2 separate regions of the Homo sapiens genome follow, and region 1 is linked to region 2. A link means that fine-mapping ties the variant in region 2 to the expression of a gene that starts in the linked region. Tissue or cell type: whole blood. Region 2 holds a variant in brackets; the other region holds the start of a gene. All regions are shown on one strand. Distances are between the middles of the regions.

What was found. PIP is the estimated chance that this variant, and not a neighbour inherited with it, causes the effect.
Region 1: PIMREG starts here. The variant in region 2 is the best candidate, but not a certain one, in a credible set for the expression of PIMREG in whole blood (TOPMed, PIP 0.75).

Annotation. Positions count from the first base shown.
Region 1 is chr17:6,442,906-6,445,807 of GRCh38, forward strand. PIMREG (PICALM interacting mitotic regulator) reads left to right here and starts at 1,550. Exons shown (of 6, transcript NM_019013.3): 1 at 1,550-1,583; 2 at 2,171-2,499. The coding sequence starts at 2,206. All of the region lies in intron 2 of LOC107985017 (a long non-coding RNA gene), which reads right to left. RefSeq lists silencers at 860-1,009, 1,240-1,489, 1,572-1,799 and an enhancer at 930-1,508.
Region 2 is chr17:6,464,202-6,467,103 of GRCh38, forward strand. It overlaps PITPNM3 (PITPNM family member 3), which reads right to left. Exons shown (of 20, transcript NM_031220.4): 15 at 454-570; 16 at 1-117. Among named protein-coding and RNA genes, the nearest start is that of PIMREG, 21 kb to the left of the region's middle. RefSeq lists enhancers at 1-45, 46-597. The variant T/C (reference allele first, on the strand shown) is at 1,554.

The DNA.
Region 1 (2,902 bases), 21 kb before region 2:
TAATCTAACATATTTCTGAGATTGACTTAAGTTACACCATCTGGCTACAATTTGCTTATTTTTCAGTGCTGTATAATATTCTATAATTTGAATAAATAACAATTTATATGTCTTAAAAAATGCCACCGATAGCCAGGAACGGTGGCTCACGTCTGTAATCCCAGCAGTTTGGGAGGCTGAGGCGGGTGGATTGCCTAAGGTCAGGAGTTCGAGACCAGCCTGGCCAACATAGTGAAACCCCATCTCTACTAAAAATACAAAAAATTAGCTAGGCGTGGTGGCAGGCACCTGTAATCCCAGCTACTAGGGAGGCTGAGGCAGGAGAATCGCTTGAACCTGGGAGGCGGAGGTTGCAGTGAGCCGAGATCATGCCATTGCACTCCAGCCTGGGCAACAAGAGTGAAATTCCGTCTCAAAAACAAACAAAAAATGCCACCGATATATGAATTTGGGCATTACATTTCCAACATGTGAAATTTGAGGGACACATTCAAACCATAGCAGAGGATCAAGTAAGTTAATAAACTGCAACACCGGTACCTGTGCATACTAAGTGCCATATACACGTTAATCATTATCATCATCCTTTCCTTGGAAATCACTGAGGCCAAAGGAGTGGGTGAGACCACCCAGAAACGGAGAGGGCTGAAGACAGAGTCTCAAGAAGCCATCATCTCAGGCTCTTGTGCGGAGAAGTAACAAAGAAACCAGCCGGGGGAGTGGGCAGCACTGCTCTGAGGTCACCGAAAGGAGAAAGATGAGCTGGAGAGAGCTTTATAATGGCTGCATTTGTTTGGATGCTAAGGAGAAGAGAGGCAGGCATTCCGCTGGAGAGAGGGAGGGATGCGTGGGGCAAGGCGGGGGCGGGGAGCCGGTGTAGACGGGTGGAGGGCAGACCGGTACTCTGGTCTATCCCCGCTTCCGGGACGCGTTTTCTAGGGAGGGCGGAGCGTGGATGGCGAGTATGGGGAACTCAGAGAGGGACAGTGTCTTGTCACAGGAAGGGAGGGTCAGGAGGGAAATTTGAAAGAAAACGTCTCTGGGAACCCAGGGCTCTGCACTGCCAGTCCCTGGCTCCTTCTGACAAAACCACTGAGCAAGAAGGAAAAGCCAGACCCCTTGGCAGGATGAGAGGGGTCTCTGCCCGCTGCCGGGCCTGGGGCCTGGGGCCTGAGCCAGGAGGCCTAGGTCCCAGGACCTCCGCCTCCACCCCATGGGTCAGAGCAGCCTGAACCCTGTGCGCGCTCCAGGGAGGGGACCCGGTGTGCGATGCGCGGGGGCTGGGCTAGCAAGGGCAGTGGCGCGAGCGGGACGCAGGATACAAAGCCCGGAGCCACGAGGCTGGCGGCGGGGCGGGGGCCGGAGCGATGAATGGGCACGGCCGGGCCAATCCAAGCGCAGCATTTGCAGCCGCGAGAGAGGGAGCCAATCGGATCCCCGGGGCGGTGGCGGTGGCGGGGGCGGGGACGGAACCAATCAGCTGTGAGGACGGGGCCGGGGGCGGAGCCGCGCAGAGTTTCAAATCGGCTGCGGTGGGCGAGGAGCAGCTGTGCTGCGGCTGTGCTCGGCCTTAGTGGTGTCGGGTGAGTGCGGGCTGGGCACAAGTTTCGCCCTTGTTGCCCAGGCTGGAGTGCAATGGCGCGATCTGGACTCAAAACAATTTTTTTGTTCGGAGGGGAGGGCATCAGGTTCTGTTCACAGGGGAGGGCATCAGGTTCGGACACGCACGGCCTGTGGGGTCGTCTGGGTACCACAAGAAGTCGGATCGAAATCGGGGCGTCTGGTGGGAAGGCCGGGGTCTGGGCGGGTGCGCGTTTGGTCTGGGCGAGCTGGTGAAGAAGATGGTGATCGTGTCCTGGGCCCAGCGCTGAAGCTCGGCTACGGCGTGTCTTGACCCTGCCTCCCCTCCTCGCCTGAGCCAGAGAGAGGAAGGAGGTTGGGATGAAAAGACAGCTGTTTTGGAAACTTGAAGGGCGGGACATCAGAAATGCTGCTGACCCGAGGCCCCTCTTCCAGGAAGCATCCTCCTTCCTGCACCCACACTTACCAACTCGCCCGCCCCCGCCACCCCGCTGCATCCCGTCTCTTCCCCTGTGTCCAGGGTCTCTGTGGGGCCTGGGAATGGGTATGGGGAATGCCTTGCTGATCTGCCTTTCGCCCTCCTCCCCAGGGTCTAGTGGACAGAGAAGACTCTTGGCCAGGCAGATGGCTTCTCGGTGGCAGAACATGGGGACCTCCGTGCGCCGGAGATCTCTCCAGCACCAGGAGCAGCTGGAGGACAGCAAGGAGCTGCAGCCTGTGGTCAGCCATCAGGAGACCTCTGTAGGGGCCCTGGGGTCCCTGTGCAGACAGTTCCAAAGGAGGCTGCCCCTGAGAGCCGTCAACCTCAACCTCCGCGCAGGGCCCTCCTGGAAACGCCTGGAAACCCCAGAGCCAGGTCAGCAGGGCCTCCAGGCTGCAGCTCGCTCAGCTAAGAGTGCTTTGGGTGCCGTGTCCCAGGTAATACTGACAACACTAATCATCTTTTTTATGGAGTGTTTCCTTGGTGCCAGGCAGTTCCTGCCCTCAAAGAGCCTCAAGAATATAGACTTCATGAAAACAGGGACGTTGGTTAGTTCACTGCTGTTTCCCCACCACCCCAGATAGTTCCTGGCACATATAGGTGCTCAACAAATAGTTGAATGAGTGAATGAAAGCATGTCTTGGAGGAAACAGATGCTCACAATACCAGGTGATAAGAGCTGTACGTGATAGGAAATTGCAAAGCAAGTGACCAATAGTGAGGCTCACCAAATGCAAGCTTAGTCGGTGAAGGCTTCCCAGAGGAGGTGATTCCAGAGTTCACCCAGGGAAGCAAAGGTCAAGGGGTATTTAGGGTAGGGGAAATAGTGCAAGTCCAGGC
Region 2 (2,902 bases):
CCCCAGGCGCCGGGGCCGCGGCACATTGTATGTGATGCGACCACTGCTGTTGGTGATCTCTGTGTCCAGGTGTACCCAGCGGCCTGAGGATGGCTCTGCCATTACTAGGATGTCCACCTGCGGCAGTGAAGGGGGTCAGGGACTCCCTGAAGGCTGAGGGGCTACAGGCTTGGCAGAGGGGCTGGGCGGGGGAACTCTGGGCTGAGGTCCCTGCCTGACATTCCCTGGCTCCTGCCAGCCTGGCTCCTCATTTGTCCTTGGATACTCTGAGCCCATCCTTTCCTCCTTGCTCACCCTTCCCGGCCCGCCCAAGCAGGTGGGTAGCTCCTGGCCCTGTGCTTCCACCCCAGGCAGCTCGGCCCTCTTGACACCCTCACCCCACACGCTATGTGGCTCCATGAGGCACCTGGTGCAGGTGGAGTGGCTGAGGAGGGGAGGCCCAGCCCCAGGTACCTTCTCTCCAGTCAGAGCCACCATGTCGAGGGGCCCGTACATGAACCGCCCCACCAGGACCTGGGGGCCATCTTCAGCAGCAATCACATCATTGGCCCGGTGATTAGCCGTGACATTCTGGAAGGACAGAAAGAAGCTGGCTCAGCCCTTGCAAGGGAGGCTCAACCTTGCTTTATCATTGCAGTGTTCCTCAGACTGGCTGGAGGCATATCAGCTTGCTGAATCATGTCTCTCTACTAACTTCTGCTAGAGTTTCAGAGATGTGTTCCCAGGGAACGTGTGAGAAAAACAGACCGTGAGTCCCCCAAACGCTGTCTTCAAGGTGCACAGGGCTTCCTGCCATTGTACGTTTTCTGCTTTCGTGTTTTTTGTTTGATTGATTGTTTGTTTGTTTTGTTTTTTGTTTTTTGTTTTTGAGAAGGAGTTTTGCTCTTGTTGCCCAGGCTGGAGTGCAATGGCGCAATCTCGGCTCACCGCAACCTCCCGGGTTCAAGCAATTCTCCTGCCTCAGCCTCCTGCGTAGCTGGGATTACAGGCATGCGCCTCCACACCTGGCTAATGTCATATTTTTAGTAGAGATGGGGTTTCTCCGTGTTGATCAGGCTGGTCTCGAACTCCCGACCTCAGGTGATCTGCCTACCTCGGACTCCCAAAGTGCTGGGATTATAGGCATGAGCCACCGTGCCTGGCCCGTTCTCTGTTTTGACTCTGCTCGGCCCTGAGGGGACAACTGGCCTCACAGCCTGTGCTTATCTTCCAGATCCCCGGGCTGGAAACTGCCTGGTCACTTTTGGTTCTTTCTTCTACATCACAGCTCACATCCAACAGTATTTACTATCTGTCTTTTTTTTTAAGATAAAATTTCAAATGCACAAGCATAGAGAGAGAGAAGAGTGTAACAAAGCCTCGTGTTCCCAGCACCTGCTCCACCACTTAGCAACAAACTCGTGGCCATCCTGGTTTCGTTCTTCCCTTGCCCAATTCCCCAGCCTCGGCCCCAGCCCCACCGGGATTATCCTGGAGCAATCCTGGACGCTGCGTCATTTTATCTGTGACTGTCTCAACCTCCCTATTTTTCTTCATTTATCAATGAACTGGTT[T/C]CAGTTCATTCTGCAGCCTGTGTTGGCCCTGACCAGCCCCCACTCCCAGCCTGGCCTCCAAGACCCCAGTCTCTCCATCTAGTGACCACTCCTTTACCGCACTGGCCACATCTTCATCTCTCGCACAGCCACATCGCCTGGATGCTGCTAACAGCTCCCTAATGGAGCTCCTTCCTCAAAGGCAGTCCCTGCAACAGATCCTCTGTCTCTATAAAGCACAGCTCTACTAACACCCTCCCGGGCTCCCCACTGCCCTCTGCGTAGAGTCCGGAACCTGAGCTTAGCTTTCCAAGGCTTGCCTGAACGACCTCTTCAGTCTGTCTCCTGCTGCTCCCCATCCACACCTTCTGGTCCTTTCTGCCAGGCTCTGCAGCAGCCTCCAGGCCTTTGCTCACACCGCTGTCCCGCCCCCCACACTGGCTCTAGGTGCCATCCCTGGCCCTGGCCCTCTTCCCCCACATTCCAGCCCATTCGCTATGACTAGACTCAGCGCCATCATCGCCAAGAAACACTCCTCGGACTCCTCAAAGACAGGTTCTCAACCTCCTTTCAATTCCCATGCATTTTAATTCAATCCAACAAATATCTGCAGACACCTCATCTGCATGGGGTCCCTGAGATAAACTAGTCGTGGGCCCTGCCCTGGAGACACTCAGCCAAGTAGGGAACGCAGGCCCCCTTACAGGTGCACTGTCAGGGGAGAGGGAGCAGCTGGTTCATGAATATAAGCACCTGAAAAGATCCGGCATCCCGAGTCATTAGAGAAATGCAATCAAAACCACAATGAAATACCCCGTCACACCCACCGGGATGACTAGAATCAAACAGACAGATAATAACAGGGGTTGCTGAAGATGCGGAGAAATCAGAATCCTCATACATTGCAGTGGGAATGTGAAATGGTACAGTCACTGTGGAAAACAGTCTGGCAGTTCCCTATATGATTAACCATAGAGTTAACATTTGATACAGAAATTGCACTTCTAGGCATCTACCCGAGAGAAATGAAAACACAGGAGAAATGAAAAACACAAAAACTTATACATGGACGTTCATAGCAGCATTATTCATAGTAGCCGAAAGGTGAAAACACCAGCCTGGCCAACATGGCGAAACTCCATCTCTACTAAAAATACAAAAAATAAAATAAAATAAAATAATTAGCCGGGCATGGTGGTGAACACCTGTAATCCCAGCTACTTGGGAGGCTGAGGTAGAAGAATCACTTGAACCAGGGAGGGGAGGTTACAGTGAGTTGAGATTGCACCACTGCACTCCAGCCTGGGCGACAGAACAAGACTCCGTCTCAAAACAAAAAAAAAAAACCAAAAAAAAAAAACAGGTGAAAA